3 separate regions of the Homo sapiens genome follow, and regions 2 and 3 are each linked to region 1. The links come from fine-mapping of genetic effects on gene expression. A gene starts in region 1. Each other region holds a variant in brackets. All regions are shown on one strand. Distances are from middle to middle.

What was found.
Region 2: its variant is fine-mapped to the expression of CPD in whole blood (TOPMed, PIP above 0.99).
Region 3: its variant is fine-mapped to the expression of CPD in whole blood (INTERVAL, PIP above 0.99).

What each region holds. Positions count from the first base shown.
Region 1 is chr17:30,375,318-30,382,657 of GRCh38, forward strand. It overlaps CPD (carboxypeptidase D), which reads left to right and starts at 3,610. Exons shown (of 21, transcript NM_001304.5): 1 at 3,610-4,409. The coding sequence starts at 3,664. RefSeq lists enhancers at 1,336-1,625, 1,876-1,925, 3,196-3,365, 3,511-4,438 and silencers at 3,416-3,655, 3,956-4,085.
Region 2 is chr17:30,225,538-30,232,877 of GRCh38, forward strand. All of the region lies in intron 1 of SLC6A4 (solute carrier family 6 member 4), which reads right to left. Among named protein-coding and RNA genes, the nearest start is that of SLC6A4, 6.5 kb to the right of the region's middle. RefSeq lists a silencer at 360-560. The variant C/T (reference allele first, on the strand shown) is at 4,351.
Region 3 is chr17:30,351,670-30,359,009 of GRCh38, forward strand. No RefSeq gene overlaps it. Among named protein-coding and RNA genes, the nearest start is that of TMIGD1, 21 kb to the left of the region's middle. The variant C/A (reference allele first, on the strand shown) is at 3,064.

The DNA.
Region 1 (7,340 bases):
TTAATTTTCAGAGAAATGAAGTAACTTGCCCTGGTTACAATGGCTGAAAAGGGACTGATCCAGGATTTGAACTTGGTTCTGCTGTTGAAGAGCATGATCAAGCAGTATTGGTGACGTTTTCTCTGACTCTTCATTATTTTTATTTTTAATTTCTTTTATTTATTTATTTTGTATTTTTAGTAGAGACGGGGTTTCACCATGTTGACCGGGCTGGTCTTGAACTCCTGACCTCAGGTGACCTGCCCGCCTCGGCCTCCCAAAGTGCTGGGATTACAGGCTTGAGCCACCGAGGGAGGTGACTCTTCATTATAATGGCTTTTGTGTGTTCCAAAAACAGGTTTTTGTTTTTTGTTTTTTTAAGCTTACTATATAGAAACAGTTTTATTACAGAATTTAAGCACACAGACTCTGAAGTCACACTCCCCAGGTTTGAGTCTTGGATCTGTGGCTTGCCAGCTGTGTGACCTCATGTCTCCTCTCTTTATCTTTGAAATGGGAATGATAATAGCACCAGCCTCATAGGACTGTTGTGAAGATGAAATGAGTCAACCAATGTAAAGGGTTTTGCACAGTGCCTGTTATGTAACTCTTGTCCAGCAGACACATCCAGTCCTGTGTTGTGTCTATGTTCTGTGTCCCTTCCTAGATTCTGTCCTCTGGGAGGGGAGAGATCCCCTTCATTCATTTTCCAATCCTCCTGTACCTGGCACAACAGACCTTTCGCCAGATTGGGTGCTCCACAAACATTTGTCAAATTGAATTTGTAAATCTGCAGGTGTTTGTGCTGGACAATGAGACACTTACAAGTTCCCGGTCTATGCTATGCTTTAATTACCTACGAATCTTGTGAAGAAAATGGTTCTTGAATCAGGCTGGTCATCTAAAAGCTTTTGCCCTGTTTTTAAAAAATCCACGTCAATTCTTTGTCATTTCTTGGTGCTAGAAACATTTCAAATCTCTTTGAGCTAAATGAGGTGATGGCTATCCAGAATGTCCTGGTTTGATCATAATATATTGTATGCATGTATCAAAATATCAAATGTATCCCATAAATATGTACAATTATCATGTATCAAATACAAAAATTAAAAAAAAAAATCCAAGTCATTGCCACTCTGCTTCTGTGAACAGGAAGCCTTTTTACCTTCAAGCCTTTCCCAAGTCCCTTCCATTTGTAAGGCCACACCTTTTCCTTGGGGAAAGAGGAAAGAAACACCTGTCATAAGGTTCAAGACTTCTCAGACACAATTGGAGGTATTCAGCTGTAGGTAAACACAAACCTGTAGGTAAACACAAAAGTGACTGAGGTCCAGAGCTTTGGGTTTCACTTATAACCATAAGCAACTGTGTACCTGCTAAGGAAGAAGGCTGCAGACCTGAAAGAGGCCCACGGAAGGCCTGGGGATTTCTGAGAGGACACCGGCTCAAGTTACATTCCCATATTATTTCACCACCCTCATGCTTGTTTATTTACATTTCAGGCTGCCTCTCTAGGCGAGGCTGCAGGAGTGAAGGGGCTGGAAGAGGTTTCAAAGGAGAGTGAACGTGGTAGAAAAGGAAATATTTGATTAGAAGTTAACATGTCCTCTGGGGCTTCTTTGACTTGGATTACTGTAAAAGTGCATGGTGTAATAGTTGAGCACTCCCGGGAGGTGGTGGGCGGTCTCTCTGTACAGAGTTGTGGCTTTGTTTCTGATGAGTTGCAGCTGCTGTGCATAATGTAGACTAGATCAAATGGGGCATGGAGAAGAGCCATTCACAGGACCGGAGTGACGGTGCTCGCTCTGATGGCAGAATACTAAATTAATCATCTTCACCTAAACCTGTGCTTTCTCCTGGCCTGTACCTCAGTGAATACCTGCAAGTTGCTTAGGCTGTAACTTGAAGTCAGCCTACAATCCTCTTTGTCTCCAGATCCTGTCCACTTTCCTTTCCGAAGGTCTTTCAGATCCATTTCCTTCTTTCCACCTCCACTGGCACTGCCCTCATTCAGAGTCTCATCATGTCTTCCTGGATTGCAGCTTCCTTCCAGGTCTCTCAGCCTCAAGTCTTAGGCCTCCCATTCAATTTTCCGTGTTACTGTCAGAGGAATTTTTCTAAACTAGCTTAAAACCCGTCTGTGGTTCTCCATGGCCTTCCAGATCAAATGTGCTCCCTGAAGACTGGCCTGTGAGCCCCTTCACACCAGTAATCCTGACCCTGCATGCAATTCCCAGAACACAAGGCATTTGTTCTCAAATCCTGCGGCTTTCTTTGCTTGCTTCTCCTCCTGCCTGGGATCCTTCCCATCCTCCATGGTTTCTCTCCTCCTTTCCTCCTCCTCAAGTTCAGATATTTCCCTCACCTGTACCCCCTCTGTTGTAGCATTTATCACAAACTACACTGAATCTCTTGACTGGGCAGAAGAATGAATTGTTTCCCAGCATCTAGCTTTGACATAAAAGTTGCTCAATAAATACTTGACGAATGAATGAACTCTATTAAAGTAGGGTTCAGTCATAGTTCAGGGAAGGGGCCCTGAAATAGCTGGCTCTGAAAGAAGGTAATGCCGGTTATTGCGATTATGTTGTTAGATGGGTAGAATTTCGCATTCGATTAAGGGATAGTTTTGGGTTTCTTCAAGCTAAAGAAACTAAAGCCTATAAAAGGTGATTTAAAAGACCTCTTCTCTAGACTTGATGAAACGCTGTAATTGCCATCTTTGGCTGACACTGAGGAGTTCAGGAATGCCAAGCAAGTGTTTCCAGAAATGTCAAACCTGCTGTTTTAAAATATGTCATTCCAGGGCACAGTTAAATATACAACTTGCTCCGATGAGGTGGGAGAAGTGGGCCGGTGAGCTGTGAAATGAAATCTGCCTAATGAGGGTCGAGGCCAGCACACACAGGGACCTATTTGCAGTAAAACAACGTGGGGTGACGCCTAAGAAATAGACAACATTAACACAAAGGGAGCCTACTACGTAGCACATTTCCGCTAGGCATAAAAGAGACACCTTTCCAGAAAGCAACTCTAAAAATGAATGCACCGCCTAGTGAGGTGCGAGCCTTCCTCCCCACGAGGCGTCCCGTGCAACCGCACGCGGACAGCGGGGCTCCAGCGGAGGCGGGGTGGATGCGGAGACAAGGCGCCTAGGAGACTGGGCTAAGGCTTTGAGTGTCCGAACGAAGATTCTTTCGAACCTATTGATTTTTTCTAGTCTTATGATTCTTTCGAACCTTTTGATTCTTTCCATTCTCGGTTCTAAGCATTAAAGCGCAGCTGAGAAAGGCAGCAACAAAGATGGGAAGAGAACTAGCAGGAGTTCTCAGAGAAAAATGGGTGATAATTTAGGGGAGAAGCCATAAAGAAGAGACTAAGCGAGAAGCGGAGCACACGCAGAAGACGAAACAAGGAGGAGGAGAAGAGAAGAAGAACCTTGGCGAAGGAAGAGAGTGACCAAACTCGTCCCGGACGGGAGGAGGGCAGGCCCGCCCAGAGGGAATCGGCTGCTTTAAGGGAAGCCCCGCCCCCTGGTGGTGACGCTCCACCAGGCCCGTCCGCGATTGGCTGCGGCCAGAGGGCGGGATGGGGTTGCTAGGCGAGGAGGGGATCCGGCGGGCCCCCGCCGCCCGGAGCGCTGAGCCGCGGGAGCGGAGCCGGGGTTAGCGGCGCTGCTGGAAGATGGCGAGCGGCCGGGACGAGCGGCCGCCTTGGCGGCTAGGGCGGCTCCTGTTGCTCATGTGCCTGCTGCTGCTGGGGAGCTCGGCCCGGGCGGCTCACATCAAGAAGGCGGAGGCGACTACCACAACTACGAGCGCGGGCGCCGAGGCGGCCGAGGGCCAGTTCGACCGCTACTACCACGAAGAGGAGTTGGAGTCGGCGCTGAGGGAGGCGGCGGCCGCGGGCCTCCCCGGCCTGGCCCGCCTCTTTAGCATCGGCCGCTCGGTGGAAGGCCGGCCGCTGTGGGTGCTTCGCCTCACCGCCGGCCTGGGGTCGCTAATCCCTGAGGGCGACGCGGGGCCTGACGCTGCCGGGCCCGACGCTGCGGGGCCGCTGCTGCCCGGCCGGCCCCAGGTGAAGCTGGTGGGCAACATGCATGGCGACGAGACCGTGTCGCGCCAGGTGTTGATCTACTTGGCCCGCGAGCTGGCGGCCGGCTACCGCCGCGGGGACCCGCGCCTGGTCCGCCTGCTCAACACCACCGACGTGTACCTGCTGCCCAGCCTCAACCCCGATGGCTTCGAGCGTGCCCGCGAGGGCGACTGTGGCTTCGGCGACGGCGGCCCGTCCGGGGCCAGCGGCCGCGACAATAGTCGCGGCCGCGACCTCAACCGAAGCTTTCCCGACCAGTTTAGCACCGGCGAACCCCCCGCCCTGGACGAGGTGCCCGAGGTGCGCGCCCTCATCGAGTGGATCCGCAGGAACAAGTGAGTGTTGCCTGCCCCCTCCCCGTCCGTGTGAGCCTCCAAGGGCCGAGGCTGGTTCCGGCACCCAGTAGGCGCTCAGACAATGCTGGCATAAGGGGTGGCGGTGGTGAAGGTGAAGGGAGACACCCTGTAACGGGGACAGGGCCCAGGCCGCGTAGCCTCCCGTCCTGCTAATCATCAAAGAATTGCCTCCTAGAGGCTGTCATTTGTTCAAGGGATGGCTGGAGGGGACACTCCTTTCTGACATTTCTGGTCCCTATTCTTACAGGGGCATAGAATATGAGCGAGAAGAGATCTTAAGGATAACCTAGGTCAGCTCACACATTTTATAGATAAGCTGTCAATGTTGTTATCTTATATCAAAAGTGCCTAATGTTATAGGCGCTGTGCTAATTTTTTCTGTGACTGCAGTATCTCACTTTATTTTGGCCACAACCTGATGTCATAGACACCATCAGTTTTGCATACGGGGAAATTGAGGGTCAGATTGGTTAACTGATTTACATAGGAGTGTGGCTGGGACTTAGAATTAGGCAATCTGATTCCCGATAGTCCTCTTAGCCACGGAGGGACACTGGAGCCCAAAAATGGCAGATGATATTCCCAGGATCTTCCCCTTGCCTATTTGACAGAAGCTGATTTTTCTCCAATTTTTACCTCTGACTCAGCTTAAGAAGATATGGACTTAGCTGGAGAACTTGCACAGATCTGTGAGCCGCTTCATTTTAGACTCTGAAGGGTTTGTGATGTCATTTGTGCACCTTATTAGCCTGGGCAGAATGGCTAATGGTCACACTTCTAATACACACTTTAAGTGTTATTAAGCATTGCATGAGGTTTAAAAAATTACAAAGTAGAAGAAGGAGGACCTCAAGAAATTAGTATAAAACAAGAGAATGTTATAAATATTTATGAGGTATGTTGGTGTACCCAGTTAAACTTTACAGGAATTGTTCCCACTGGCAAGATGTGTGTGGGCTGCAATAACACGGACCATCTCTGTGGAAGAGGTAGAGCTTGAGCTATCTCCAGAGATGGGCAGGATTTTCAGCAAAAAGGAGAGGAATAAAATAAGAGGGAACTCACTCCAGATGGCATAGTGTCTGAAGTGAGCAGGCATCTCTTCCCCTTTTCTAGCATCAGCTTTTCCCCATTTTTGTATCTTCATAAGGCTTTTGAAGCAATAACTGATCATTCCATCTGGATTAAAAGAAGATTTCTGAGGGACTGCTAAGATAAAGAAGTTTCCCTGCGGGACTTGGAATCATTTCTTCTACAAGATTTCAGTCATATATAGAAGATCTAGAAAATTCTTGAGTGTTAGGACAGTTCCTGAGTCTTTTCGTCTTCTATCTTTTACTTTACTCCTCTTGATAAGCTCTCTTGTAGATATATAATTTCACATAGACTTTCTGGGAGGATTTTTTTTTCTTTTAAATACGATCGTGTCATCACCTCTGAACATCTGCGTAAGAAATATGACTTTGACATACACTTATTGACAGAGCTGTGATGGCCAGGGCTTTTTGGAGATGATACAACAAATGCACCGTTTGCATTGCTTAAATGTTTAAAATGCTCTGTCCTTGCACCTTTAAAATGCTGTGATCCTTGCAGGGATGTAAATTCTGTGCCTGGATTTTTCTTTTCAGTATTAGTTGTGCTGTGACCAAATATGAAAATAAGCTTTTTCTTGGTGCAAGTCGCCTTGAGGCTATACAGAGTCATTTTGGTCTGTGGCTGTGGACTACCCTAATCATATCTGTTCTTCAAATATGTAACTCTCATTAATCAAAAGGGAAAGTAGGTGATCATATATGGTAAAGAGTACATCCATCCTAACTCAGTCTTCAAGAATTCACTCAAAATGCGTACTCTGTGCTATTAACCAATAACAAAGGACACTGATATGTGAATAAAATTAAAAACACAAGCACACACACAATTTGATATTGATGCCTAAATATAGTGTCAACTTTATGGATGGGATATTTTTAAATACTCAAACATTAGTCTGTATGGGAAAACTACCTTTTTCAGTGTATTTTGTGAGGTAAACCATTTGAGTAATTTCTTGATATCCTATTCACCCAGCTATATTCGAATTAGATTTTTGTTGTTATTTCGAATATGTAAAATTTTAAGGCTTAATTTCCTCCAGCTTGGGAAAATGAAGTTTATTTTCTTTGTTTCACTTTATACTTCATCCAATGGATGTTGAGACAAATACTTAAGAAAATATATAAAAAAATTAACTTTATCATTCAAATGAAGATTTTATAGTTGACTCCTATTTTTTTATAGTTGACCGCTATGCTTCTTTAAGTGAATATACCTGCTTAAATTTTCATAGGTAATTAGCATATAAATGATATTTGAATGTGTTTGTGAAAAGCATTATTACAGTGTTGAGAGTGGGTGCAGATGATTTTTTTGGGGGCTTATGTATACATATCTATGATTGTCTGAATCTTTGAAATTTAGTTTGTCAGATATCAAGTTATCTTAATTTTTTTCAAGTTATCTACAGGGTTACCTGGATAGCGTAATAGAGTTAATTTAGAGATTAACTGTTTAATATTTATAAACTCATTTGTAATATCTCTAATATATTTACCAGCTACTTTAAATCTTATGCAAGGAATGATATGTGATACTGAAGTCAAGTATGAGAAACATTTCAGAGAATTGATTTGAATGGAAACCATAAAGTACCTGTCAAATAAGATTGGAGTTGATTTGCAAAGTTGATTTGACAAAAACTCAAAGCATAATCTTACAGCCATTGTAGTCACTTTCTCTTGAAATCTTCATTGTAAGAATGACACTGGTACTTTCAAAACTGTGTAATTACAGTAAGGAAAATCGAAGTGAATTTTATTACTCAAGTAGATTGCAAATATTTCATTGTTCAAAAGTATTTGATTAGGC
Region 2 (7,340 bases), 150 kb before region 1:
TCCTGCTGGGTGGAAAGATTGCAAACGAGGTCAATATTACAGCTGTGACCTTCTCCAGGCAGTCTTTGAGTTTCTCCATGTCCAGAAAAAGCCCCAGAAGGAAGCCTTCCTTTGCATCTTGGATGTGTGCTGTTGTTCCAGGCTGAGCTGGTGACAGGCTGAGGGTGGTGCCGTGGACCCCACCTCTGCTGTGGAATGACAGCTGGCAGACAGAAGCTTCGTCCCCCTAGGTCTCTGCACATGAGGGGTGCAGTTGACCAGCCAATGGGAGTGGTTGACTTTCTCTTAACTCTCCTGAAGCTAATGCACTCCATTCCCCCAATCCCTGACTCCAAGTAAAAAAGGACTGTTTCTATTTAAACTTCTGATCGAATCTCCATTCCTCTTTCCACACACTTTGTCTCTATAGCCAGGAGCAACCCGTACCTGAACAAGCATGTAATTATCCCGATTGGTCATAAACACCCAGCCCTTTGGAAATGCCTGTGACGCTCCATCTACTTGATGCCTATCAGTGCCTTCTAAGCAGAAAGACACTACAGAAATGTTGAACTTTGACTTCATGTGTCAAGATCAAAGTGAGTTCATTTCTCAGGAAACTCAACTTTCTTTCTCAAAACAAACAAAAACAAATGAACTGTGGGTTTAACGTTGAGATAGGATTAGTTACAGGTCATAGAGCCAACTGGCAGTTCGTATCCTCTATTCAGAGGGAGGCTGAAGTTCCCAGGGCATCTCCCAAGAGTGATGGGAATTATGGAACGCTGGTGCCGCCCGAAGCAGTAAACATGGAATCTGGCCTTCTTCATGGAGAAGCACTCCCTCAGCAAAGATGTGCGTAGGCCCACATGTGCTCGGCTCCTCAGAAACAAGGCAGGCAAGCCGGGCCAGCTGGCTCACGCCTGTAATCCCAGCACTTTGGGAAGCCAAGGCGGGCGGATCACCTGAGGTCAGGAGTTTGAGACCAGCGTGGCCAGCATGGTGAAATCCTGTCTCTACTAAAAATACAAAAAGTAGCTGGGTGTGGTGGCGGGTGCCTGTAATCTCAGCTACTTGTGAGGCTGAGGCAGGAGAATTGCCTGAACCCAGGAAGCGGAGGTTGCAGTGAGCTGAGATTGAGCCACTACACTTCAGCCTGAGTGACAAGAGTGAAACTCTGTCTCAAATAAATAAATAAAAATAAAAATACAAAAAATGAGCCGGGCGTGGTGGTGCATGTCTGTAATCCCAGCTACTCAGAAGACTGATGCATGAGAATCGCCTGAACCTGGGAGGCAGAGGTTACAGTCAGCCAAACTGCGCTCCAGCCTGGGCGATAGAGTGAGACTCTGTCTCAAAAAAAAAAGAAAAAGAAAGAAAAAAGAAACAAGGCAGGCACAGTCCTGCCTGCATGGAGTCCACAGGCCAAGCCTAAAATCTGAAAAAGAAAACCAACTGCTAGGAAAAACACGATGCTTCTGGAGAGGCTGGTGCTGCCACACATCCCGTGGTGAACAGAGGCTGCCGCTGGCTCGCCGCGGCGTGTTTAGATAGCTCACATGTTTTGCACCACAGTTGCCCCCAGGCTTTAAGTCTTCCTTTGCTGCTATTGCACAGTTTCTCTCACAGGACCTTGGCTGTTGGCTGATCCTTCCTTGCAGGCTCTGCAGTGTAAAATGGGGGCTCACGTTTGCATCTGCTGAAGGCACTGCTGTGTTCCCGAAGTGTGCAGGGTCATGGGGGCACAGGTCGGAAGCCATAGGGACTCCTGCCTTGCCTTTCCAATGAATTGAAGAGATTTCATGATAGAAATGAAGAGAATAGAGAAAATCTGCTTGTTTTTTTTTTGGACAAAAAGGGTAGAAATGAACTCCACTATCACAGCCATCTCCTTATCCAAAGGATTCCTCATATGACAGAGTCAGTTTAGTGTTTTTTCTGTTCCTTTGTGTGTGTGTTTGTGTGTGTGTGTGTGTTGTTTTTTTAAGAGACAGAGTCTTGCACTGTCATCCAGGCTGGAGTGCAGTGGCATGATCATGGCTCTCTGCAGCCTCAACCTCCCGGGCTCAAGGAATCCTCCCACCTCAGGCTCCCGAGTAGCTGAGATTACAGGTGTGTGCCACCACACCCAGCTAATTTTTTGTATTTTTTTCAGAGATGGGGTTTCACCATGTTGCCCAGGTTGGTCTTGAACTCCTGGCCTATGAGCAATCCTCCCGCCTTGGCCTCCCAAAGTGCTGGGATTACAGGCATGATCCACTGCACCCAGCCTGGTTTAATTTTTTGGAGAGGAATTAAATAGGATAAAATCCTCAGGGCCATTTGGGCCAGTTATCATGAGAAAGAAAAAGAATTTCTGTCCAGAACTTTCCCTGCCTGGGAGAGGATAGCCCTGGGCTTCTCTCTACACAGAGTATAAAATCTAGAGGATATGCCCCTTGTGATGGGGTCAAGGTCCCCCTGAGAGGCTGGCCAAAAGGATACTGGATTATTTATTTTGACTTTACTAGAAAGAAATGAATTTAGCATAGCAGATGTGAACAGCCCTCCTCCAGTGAATATAAACAGCCAAGCCCAGACTAACTTCCTTCCAGAGTCATCTTTCATTAGTTCCTCTGTTCACAACCCATAGCTCTCCTTTCTGTTTCAGGTCTGCACTGGAATCCCTGGTCCACCACTTAATGGCTGTGTGACTTTGAGTAGGTCACTTAACCTCTCTTAGCTTCCATTTCCTCCTGTGTAAAAGCAGACTGTTAAAACCGCTACTTCCTAAAGGCTGTCGTGGGAATTAAAGTATGACACATGCTTATCTCAGTGTCTAGCACAGGGAAGCATCAATAAATGACAGTGAGTTGATGTCACTATCACCACCATACATCCGCAACCCATTGTGCCTTTCTACTTCATACCCTAGCAGGGAAACTGAGGCCCACAAGACTTGGGACTTAAGTGATCTGTGGCTCCCAGCACGGGCCTCACTGGGTCATGCTTGCTGCTCTCAATCAGTGCTTGGGGTCACCTGGGAAACAGACTCCTGGGCTGCTCTCCCAGAGATTCTAATTCAAGAGATCCACGTGGGCACTCAGGGATCTGCAGTTTTTAACAAATACCGCAGGTTATTCAGGGGCCAGTAGGCACCAACAGTGCCGTGTGCGTCCCCACCTGTAGCTTCCCTTCCTCTAATTATCCTGCACCCTCCAAGGCCTGGCATAAGCTTCTATCCACCTCCTCTCAGCACTCCAGCCCAAGATACACTCTTTCTACTCAATTCTCATTTGTCACTCGCCATTGATTACCAGGCATCATTAGTTATCCTTTTATATACATTTGCTTCGTGTGCCCCTGGAAGCAGGGGCTATGGCTACACGTCCCTGAGTCCAAATACTTGCAGACTGGAGCACGCCCTGTACAGCTCTCAGCATGGAGGGCTTGTTTTGGGTTTCCTGACTGGGCGAGGGTGCCAACAGATCTGAGCTCCATGTGAGGTGCTGCTCTTTCTCTCCTCCCTGGAGTTAAGTCAAATGGGATCAGGGTTCTATTCTAAGGGGCCCTGTCCCTCCCTGCCTCACCCATCGGGAAGATTGGCTGTGCATCTTGTGGGCAGAGGAGGAGGGCTGCCTTAACAGTCATTTTCATGGACTATGGACAGGAAGAGACTGACATGCCCAGGATTAAAGAGCCCGGGATGGGCTTTCAGACTTTGAAACAAGTACTGGCAGGCACACCCATCAGCGGTCTGGGCTCCAAATGTTCATCTGTGAGCTGGTGGTTTGGAACTTAGAATATATTTCCTAACCCACAGAAATAAATGTGATAAACTAAAACATCTGAAACGAAAGCTGTAGAACACAGCGTTGTTAAGTGCTACACGACGGCTTAGGGGTGGGGAGGGGGCTGACAATGAGACTGATTCGAAGTTCTTTCTTTATTTTAACCTTCTTTTTGGTTCTTAAGGAAAACTAAATTTAAGGAAAGAAGAACAAGGAGCAGGGAGATCCTTGTACAGATTCCACGGAGGTGTCTTTTAGGCACTTTTGAGGTCTTTAGTTTTGTTTGTTGTTCAATTTTAAAATACACAGTAGAGATGAGATCTCGCTATGTTGCCCAGGCTGGTCTTGAACTCCTGGACTCCAGCGATCCTCCTGCCTCAGCCTCCCAAAGTGCTGAGATTACAGCATGAGCCACTGCGCCTGGTCCAAGTTCTTTAGAAGTTGATGACATGGGCTGGGCGCAGTGTCACATGCCTGTAATCCCAGCACTTTGGGAGGCCAAGGTGGGCGGATCACCTGAGGTCAGAGTTCGAGACCAGCCTGATCAACATGGAGAAACCCTGTCTCTACTAAAAATACAAAAATTAGCCAGGCATGGTGG[C/T]GCATGCCTGTAATACCAGCCTTTTAGAGGCTGAGGCAGGAGAATAGCTTGAACCCAGGAGGCAGAGGTTGTGGTGAGCTGAGATCGGGCCATTGCACTCCAGCCTGGACAACAGGAGCGAAACTCCATCTCAAAAAAGAAGAAGAAGAAAAAGAAGAAAGAAGAAGAAGAAGAAGAAGAAGAAGAAGAAGAAGAAGAAGAAGAAGAAGAGGAGGAAGAGGAAGAGGAAGAGGAAGAGGAGGAGGAGGAGGAGGAGGAGGAGGAAGAGGAAGAGGAAGAAGAAGAAGTTGGTGACATGAATTGCTTGTGACACATAATTTCACAACTTACAACTTTTTGCAGAAAACAAAACTGCTTTTACTCTGTTACCATAGTATATTTAAATGTGGACGAGGCTGGGAAAGAGACTTGAGAAACTCAAAACAGATGATGTGTTAGATTAATCAGGATTAGGAGTGTCACTTCACCTTCCAAACACTCCTTTACTGTTGTGATAAATACAATTTATGCAATAAGTAAAAATCGAGATAGAACACATGGGAACATGTCCACACACAGCTTTTCTTTTCCTTTATACAGGTATGTTACTAAGATTACCTTTGTGTAAAACAGACATGATTGGGTCCACAAAGGGACCCAAAACAGAGAGAAGAGAGGAAAAAACAACCCCAGGGAGAGGGTGCTATGAAATAAGGGTGGATTCACCTGTGGCTGCTGAGCAAGGCGGAAGAGGGAAGTGGGGAAAAGGGGGTTTGAAGTGGAACTACAAAATAAAATGGGAGTGGAGAAGAGAAAAGAGAGGGGAAACTGGCCCATTTCTCTGGGTGGGGCATGGAGGGGAGAAGGAGAGGTGAGGTCAGGTGAGGTGAGGCTGCTGGAGGAGACGGGTGCATCCAGGTGGAGAGGGGGCGCGGAGGACACGTGCAACCACCTCTTCAGCCACAAGGTGTTTGGAGTTTGGCTGTTGCTGCTCAAAGGTGCCTATACTCTTAGGTCAACAATTTCTGAGATGTGCTTTAGTGTGAGTCACACAGTTGGAGACACTCATGAAAAATCAGTTCATCCTTACACATCATTGCACCAGTCTAGTTCTCAGATATGCACTGAGATGAGAGCAAGAAAAACTTTCTGACCCCTAGTTTACAGTCTCACAGAGTAACACTGTATGCTAAAAAGGACATCATTGAGACAGCGGGGGAAATGGGAATATGAGCTGTATGTGCGATAATAGTATTGTATCTATCTCCAGTTTCCCCAGCATGAAAATGGCGCTGTGGTTACGTACAAGAAGGTCCTTGTTTGTTGGAAATCTGTGTTGAAGTATTTAAGGAAGAAGTATCTGGAAGTCTGCAAACTCTCAAAGGTTCAACTATATATATTAGTTGAACCTATATATATAGTATATATATACCTGTATGTATACCTACAGATATATATATACACACTATATATATCTGTAGGTATACATACAGATACATATAGTTTATATATACATATAGTGTATACAGACACATATATACACTGTATGTATCTGTATGTACATATGTATATATATATCTGTATGTATCTGTATGTACATATGTGTATATATAGTGTGTATATATATCTGTATGTATACATACAGATACATAAATGGCATAATTATATTAATGATCTTATATATTACACATAATATATCAAATCATATATATACTGCATATGCAAAAATTAGATATATGCATAATTAGAGTGACTTTGTACACAAATTGGCAAAATGTTAACTGGTGAAAATGGACCATATCTCTGATTTTTCAGTTGAAAATTTTCAAAAGAAAAAATAATTCTAGCCCTCAGCCAGTGCTGGGAAACTTCCAGTCAGCCAAAGCTCCCTGCTGACCAGAACAGCTTACCTCCCCTCTCCCCTCCAGGCTCTTCCCTCCCTGTTCCTTCGGCCCAGCTCCCCAACTCTGAAACAAGAGAAAGGGCCAGCTAATTTGGTTCGCCTTTTAAAGAAGACATGCCCATCATTACGGAGGGAAGAGAAGAGAGCGAAAGTAGAAGAGACTCAAGTTCTAGGCCTGGCTTTGTCCTCAAGAGCCGTGGGTGAGCTAGAGCCAGCCATGCACAGAGCTACGGGGAGCAGAACCCCTCCCTGGTCCTTCCAGGTCTCCCACTCACTAATTCTTGGCCCCTTAGAGGAAAAAGTTCCCTTAGAGAAGACAAATCAGCTTATTTTATTCAACAGTTCAGTAACAAAGGAAATGAAATGCTCTTTTTTCCTGTATACACACAGAAAGGTCACACCAAAACCCAAGACGGCAAAGGCCCACGTACTTGCCCCCTCCTGCTAGCTGCCCACCCAGTCTGGGGCTCTGGGCTCTCCCAAAGCACACAATGGGTTCGCTGTGTCCCCAGCTTTGCTGAGAAGTGCTCGCCCAGATCACCACCTGGTCTCATCATAACCCCTCCTGTCACCTCTTCCCTCCCTACCTCAAAGAATGACCTGAAGAACTGGACATCAGCATCCCAGGAGACCCTCCCCTTGCTGTCTGTCACTCGTCAGTACCTGAAGACCTGGGACATTGCCTCTCTGTCTCCACATCACTGGGTTGCGTCTCTCCTTTTGCAGCCCAGGGGCTTCTGGGATTAATGGAGGTCCATCCAGTCCTGGGTGCTAAAGAGCCTGTGGCTTAAATCCCATTAACAAATCCCCTTGGTTCAGGGTTGGGATGGAAGCTGGGGAGCTGCTGCCAGGTTCCAGAGGGGCCAAAGGAAAGATGGAAATAATAATAAGGCAGTCAGACTGCCTCACATCCACTTTATCGCTACTCATTTTGTCACCTCATTAGACACAGGGCTGGGAAAACACTTGCTCCCATTTAAAAGCGCGTTGTTGACATTCAGTAAATGAGCATTCGTCTTCCCAGTCACCCAGAGCAAACAAAAGTCAGGCTGAAGGGAGCAGCCCCTGCAGAGACGTTTCTCACAGGGCAACATTTCTGAATGTGAAC
Region 3 (7,340 bases), 24 kb before region 1:
GTTTTCATTTCTCTTGGCTATATATCTATGAGTGCAATTGCTGGGTCATATAGTAACTCTATGTTTAACATTTTGAAGAACACCTAACTTGTTTTCCATAGTGACTGTACCATTAACAATTCCACCAGCAATGTACAAGGGTTACAATTTGTCCACATTTTCATCAACACTTGTTATTGTCTCTTTTCTATTTTAGCCATCCTTGTAAGTATAAAGTGTCATCTCACTGTGAGGGTTTTTTTTTTTTTTTTTTTTTGGTACAGCTTTATTGAGATATAATTTACCTACATACTGAGATATAATTTACCCATTTAAAGTATACAATTAAATGGTTTTTACTACATTCACAGTTGTGCAACATCATTGCAATCAATTTTAGAACATTTTCATCATCCACAAGAGAAACGTCATACCCTTTAGCAATCTCGTTGAGGTTTTCATTTACATTTCCCTAATATGTAATAACATTGAACATCTTTTCATGTGCTGCTTGGCCACTTGTATACCTTCTTTGGAAAAATGTCCATTCAAATCTTTTGACCATTTTAAGTTTTTTTTTTAATTGTTGAGTTGTAAGACTCTTTATATATTTTAAATACAAATCCCTTAATAGATATATGATTTGCAAATGTTTTCTCTCATTTTGTGGGTTGTCTTTTCTTTTCACTTTCATGATAGTGTCCTTTGAAACAGGTCATGCTCTGTCACCCAGGCTGGAGTGTAGTGGTGTGATTATGACTCACTGCAGCCGTGACCTCCTGGGTTCAAATGACCCTCCCACCTCAGACAGCACCACCCAGCCCCCAACCCCCAGTAGCTGAGATCACAGACATGCACCACCATACCCAGCTAACTGTTAATTTGTTTTGGTTGAGATGGGGGTCCCCATATGTTGCTCAGGCTGTTCTGGAACTCTTGGGCTCAAGGAATCCTCTAGCCTGGCCCTCCCAAAGTGCTGGGATTACAGGCATGAACTACCTACCATGCCCAGCCTGATAGAGGCTTCACAGCACAATTTTTTTTTTTTTTTTTTTTTTTGAGACAGAGTCCTGCTCAGTCACTCAGGCTGAAGTGCAGTGGCACAATCTTGGCTCACTGCAACCTCCACCTCCCGGGCTCAAACCATTCTCCTGCCTCAGCCTCCCGAATAGCTGGGATTACAGGTGCCCACCACCATGCCCGGCTAATTTTTGTGTGTGTGTGTGTTTTTTTTTTTTTTTTTTTAGTAGAGACGTGGTTTCACCATGTTGGCCAGGCTGGTCTTGAACTCCTGACCTTAGGCAATCCGCCCATCTCAGCCTCCCAAAGTGCTGAGATTACAGGCGTGAGCCACCACGTCTGGCCTGTAGCACAATTTTTAATTGTAAAAAAGCTTAACAGTTATTTTTCCTTTTGTCATGTATACTTCTGGTGTCATATCTAAAATACCATTGCCTAATCCAAGGTTATATTTTCTTCTAAGAATTTTATAGTTTTAACTCTTATATTTAGGACCAGATTTATTTATTTATTTTATTTTATTTTATTTATTTATTTTTTGCGACGAAGTCTCACTCCTGTGGCCCAGGCTGGAGTGCAATGGTGTGATCTCAGCTCACTGCAACCTCTGCCTCCTGGGTTCAAGTGATTCTCCTGCCTCATCCTCCTGAGTAGCTGGGATTACAGGCTCCTGCCATCATGCCCAGCTAATTTTTGTATTTTTAGTAGAGACGGGGTTTCACTATGTTGGCCAGGCTGGTCGCGAACTCCTGGCTTCCGGTGATCCACCTGCCTGGGCCCACTAAAGTGCTGGGATTACAGGTGTGAGCCACCATGCTTGACCCAGAATTTATTTTAAGTTAATTTTTGCCTGTGGTGTGAGATAGGAGTCCATATCCATTTTTTTGCTTGTGGATATCCAGTTGACCCAGCACCATTTGTTAAAAAGGCTATTCTTTCCCCCATTGAATGGTCTTGGCACCCTTGCTGAAAATCAATTGACCAAAAATAGTAGGGTTTATTTCTGAATGTTCAATTCCATTCCATTGATCTATATGTCTATCCCTATGCTATTAGCACCCTCTTGATTACTGTAACTTTATACTAGGTTTTGAAATCAGGAAACATGAATCCTTCAACTTTGTTCTTCTTTTTCAAGGTTGTTTTTGGCTTTTCTGAGTCTCTTGCATTTCCATATGGATATTAGGATTAGTATATCAACTTCCACAAGAAAAGATGCTAGTATTTTGATAGGAATTGCATTAAATATATAGATTAGTTTGAAGTATTGGCATCTTACAATATCAAGTCTTCTGATCCATGAACATGGGATGTCTAGGTTTTCTTTAATTTCTTTCAATAGTGTTTTGTAGTTTTCAGTGTACAAGTCTTGCACTTCTTTGGTTAAACTGATTCCTAAGTAGTTTATTTATTCTTTTTGATGCCATTATAAATGAAATTGTTTTCTTAATTTCATCTTTGGATTGTTGTTTGCTAGTGTATATAAATAAAATTAATTTTTGCATGTTGCTTTTGTATCTGGCAACCTTACTGAACTTGTTTATTAGTTTTAATAGGTTTATAATGGATTCCTTAAGGTTTTCTATACGTAAAAGTAAATCATGTCATCTACAAATAGAGATAGTCTTATTTCTCTCTTTCCTATCTGGATGTCTTTTTTTTTTTTCTTATCTAATTGACCTGACTGGAATATCCAGCACAATGTTTAATAGAAAGTGAACATTCTGGCCAGGCACGGTGGCTCACACCTGTAACCCCAGCACTTTGGGAGGCTAAGGCAGGTGGATCACAAGGTCAGGAGATCGAGACCATCCTGGGCAACATGGTAAAACCCTGTCTCTACTAAAAATACAAAAATTAGCCGAGCATGGTGGCGTGCGCCTATAGTCCCAGCTACTCAGGAGGCTGAGGCAGGAGAATCGCTTGAACCTGGGAGGTGGTGGTTGCAGTGAGCTGAGATTGCACCACTGCACTCCAGCCTGGGTGACAGAGCAAGACTCCATCTCAAATAAACAAACAAACCAAAGGAAAAAAAAAAGGAAAGTGAACATTCTTGGTTTGTTC[C/A]TGATTTTAAGGGAGCTTTCAATCTTTCACTATTAAGCATTATATTAACTGTGGGTTATATGAATATTTTAATGAACTACTTTTGAGCTACTAGTCCTTTTTTTAAAAATTGGAAATATGATGCACTGTGATAGTAATATTGAAAATGAAAATTTAATCATGGTCCAGTCAGAGGTTTTAGTTGGAAGTAACAGAAACTAACTCTAGCTTATTTAAGCATGAAGGAAGTTTACTGATGACATATTGTAGAGGAGGAGAAAGAAACAGGTTCAGTGAAGGATTGGAACAAGAAGGTCCCAGTAGCAACTAAGACCACAGGCTAAACATTGCCATAAACCCATCCAGGAAGACCATTACTGATGAACCACTAAATGCCACAGCTTGGAATGGGGGCCTCAAAACACTGAATACTGCCCCATTGCAGAAACTCAAGTTGCCCCTAGAAACAGATGTTTCTGCCACCACTGCCACCACTAGGCATCATAACCAATTCCTGATTCTTTGTGTCTCTTGCTCTCAATTGGAGTTGGAGGAAGAAGACTGCAGATGTATTTTCACCCTTGTCTTTCTTACCCTTTGATCTTCTCGTGATGAGGAGGTATAGAGATCCATCATTAAGAGCCCACCTTTGTAATAAGCCTAGGGCAGTTCAAGTATGCAGCAGTGTAGTTGGAAGGAGGTCTTGTGCTGAAGTTGTGTTTATGAGTTACAACACTGCTTTTCCTTAAATTGCATATTTATTTAGGGTGGCTATACTAGTATGTTTTCATGCTGCTGATAAAGACATACTCGATACTGGGAAGAAAAAGAGATTTAATTGGACTTACAGTTCCACATAGCTGGGGAGGCTGCAGAATTATGATGGGAGGCAAAAGGCACTTCTTACATGGTGGCAGCAAGAGAAAATGAGAAGGAAGCAAAAGCAGAAACCCCTGATAAACCCATCAGATCTTGTGAGACTTATTCACTATTTCAAGAACATCACGGGAAAGACTGGCCCCCATGATTCAATTACCTCCCACTGGGCCCCTCCCCCAACACATGTGAATTCTGGGAGATACAATTCAAATTGAGATTTGGGTGGGGGGCACAGCCAAACCATATCAGTGGCTTTGGACAAACTAATGGAAATCCTATAGAGGCTGATGACTGTAGCACCTTTCCACACCAAACATAATTCAGATCCTAGCGGAACCACTTGATTTGATTATGTGAGCTTAGGAAAATTAGTTAGATTTTCTGAGCTTCAGTTTCTTTTTCTTTTTCTTTCTTTCTTTTTTCTTTTTCTTTTCTTTTTTTTTCTTTTTCTTTTTCTTTCTTTTTTTTTTTTAGATAGAGTCTTGCTGTGTCACCCAGATTGGAGTGCAGTGGCGTGATCTCGGCTCACTGCAACCTCTACCTCCCGGGCTGAAGTGATTCTCCTGCCTCAGCCTCCCGAGTAGCTGGGATTACAGGCACCTGCCACCAGGCCCAGCTAATTTTTGTATTTTTAGTAGAGACAAGGTTTCACCATGTTGGCCAGGCTGGTCTCGCACTCCTGACCTCAAGTGATCCACCTGCCTCTGCCTCCCAAAGTGCCGGGATTACAGGCATGAGCCCATGCCTGGCTTCAGTTTCTTTGTCTAGAAAATGGTGACACACTTTCACAGGGTCATTGTGAGAGTGAAAGGGACAATGAACATAAGGCAAATAGGACAGTGTTTGGGACATAATAAGCATTAATAATTAGTGGCTAGTGTTCATATTCTCTGTCAGTCTACTTCTTGGCTACCAGGTCCTTTTCCTTGGAATCAGTCCCAGTGTCTCTTTTTCACTCTAACTTTTGAACCACCTACAGCTCCCAGTCATCTTTCATATGTCAGCTCCCAACCAGTGCCAGTGTTTTTTACCTTGAGTATCTGATCCACCCCAAAACGGCACTGCATCATATTGAACTTGGCCATGCTTTTGGCCAAAAGCTAGAAATACTGTTGGCTGAGAGGCTTAGAAATGCCTCTCCAGCCCTACCATAATCAGCCGTGGCAAGCTGACATGAGGCAGGCCAGAGCAGCCAGGTGTCACAGGCTCTAAAGTTAGGCTGCCTAGAGTCAAACCCACTCATCTCCGCCACTTATCGTTAGTGACTTTGGTGAAGTTATGTAACCTCTGTGTCTCAGTTTCATCTTCTGTAAAATGGGGATATTAATAGTATTATTTTGTAGAGTTATGAGGATTCAATAAATTGATATACGTAAAGCATTCAGAACAACGGTAGGCAAGTAAGCTCTCTAGTCTTTGCTATTATTATTATTATTATTATTATTATTATTATTATTATTCAGTCTGGTACTCAAACCCAAGCACTGGAGAATGAGGGTACAAGGCAGGAAACCCATAACTGGGAATTAAGATGCTAAGATCAAACTGCACACAGCAGAAAGATTGACTGGCTCAGGTTCAACAGTGAGCTGCCAATGTTGGTCCCTCAAAGTTCAGAAGTGGGGCCAGTCTCCAAGCCTGAAGTGTAGCTGTTACAAAGGGCTCACCTGTGCCCCTGAGAAGGCAGCAGGGGGATGGGGGCAACCATGTTATTGAGAAAAAGAGAGCATGGGCTTTATCAATGGATAAATGGCCAATGGATAGATAACGATGGTTTGCTGGCAAAAGAGTAAAAGGATCAGAGCGATGCTTTGTAACAGTGGTCTCCAAAGTGAGGTTTGTGCTAATTCCTGGAATTCATTAGGAGCTGGCTGCCCTGAGCCGCAGAAAAAATATTAGTATTTATATTTATTTTTCTTTAAAAGAATTAAACTTTACTGATGCCCTATATATCAACTGATGCTGGAAGCCACATTTGTCTGAACATGAGTCAAGTGTCATAAATCATAAGAGAGATCTCCCAAGAGGAATTTGTGTGCTGTAGGGTGTCATTAGGCTATTTTTATAAATAAAATAAACAAAAAACACAAGACCTTTAAACTTTAGATAGTAGAATCTTGGGTGGCAGGTTATCTCACTTGGTTAGAGCCCAGTGTTAATAAATCACAGAGTCCTTATAATACTGTAAAGTGAGTTGAAGAGTGACCATCAAAATCAATTGTATCAAATAGGATTATGGGCCATTGAGGGGTAAAGGACTTAAAAGAATTGTCAATTTAAAAAGATGAACTGTGAACTGCACAATTTTTCTCTTACAAAAAGACTAGTGTTCAAAAATTTCTGACCTTTTCTGTGATGACAAATGAATTTAAAAACTGGGCTACCAGGAGAAATTACAATAATCAATCAACTAATTAATAATAAAACAATTACAATAATAAGCACATTTAATTAATATCTTTAAGAAAAAAAATGGTGTTTAACAGTGAATGAAAAGTCACTGTTTTGGGGGGCCAAGGCAGGAGGATCGTTTGAGTCCAGGAGTTTCAGACCAGCCCCGGCAACATAGTAAGACCTCATCTCTACAAAAAAATTAAAGATTAGCTGGGCCTGGTGGTATGTGCCTGTAGTCCCAGCTACTTAGGAAGCTGAGGCAGGAGGATCACTTGAGCCCAGGAGTTTGAGGTTACAGTTTGAGTGCAGCAGCCGAGCTATGATCACACACAGCTCCAGGTATGATTGGGCTACTGCACTCCAGCCTGGGTGACAGAGAGAGTTTGTCTCAAAAAGCAAAGAAAAAGAATAGAAAAGTAACTGCTCTTGCAAAGAAACTCTTTTTTTAATTAAGAAAGCATTTTGAAAATGGATGTCTGGAAGTCAAATTGTCTGTGTTTGCAGACGACATGATTGTATATTTAGAAAACCCTGTTGTCTCAGCTCAAAATCTCCTTAAGCTGATAAGCAACTTCAGCAAAAATCACAAGCATTCCTATACACCAATAAGAGACAAACAGAGAGCTAAATCATGAGTGAGCTCCCATTCACAATTGCGACATTGTTTTTTTATTCCTGAAAATGATATAACTTTATCATTACCTATGAAACATTTATACCTGCATGCTTTACAAAAAACTTGGAAAGAGTCTTTTAATCTATTAATATTCCAGACATAGATTTACAATACTTTTCAATAGCTTGCAAAAATAACTCTTGGACATCAGTAGATTTATTGGCTGAATTTCAATTAAACTTTGTATAGCTGCTGGATAGAAATGAATATTAGGATTTAGCAATGTGTTTGTGGTGCATTTGGCATTGTGTAAATTTGAGACTATATTTCTCAGCTATGATGGCAATTAAAACACGTTTTCAAAATAAAGTTAGAAACACACTTGTGAATCATTTCATCACAAATTGTT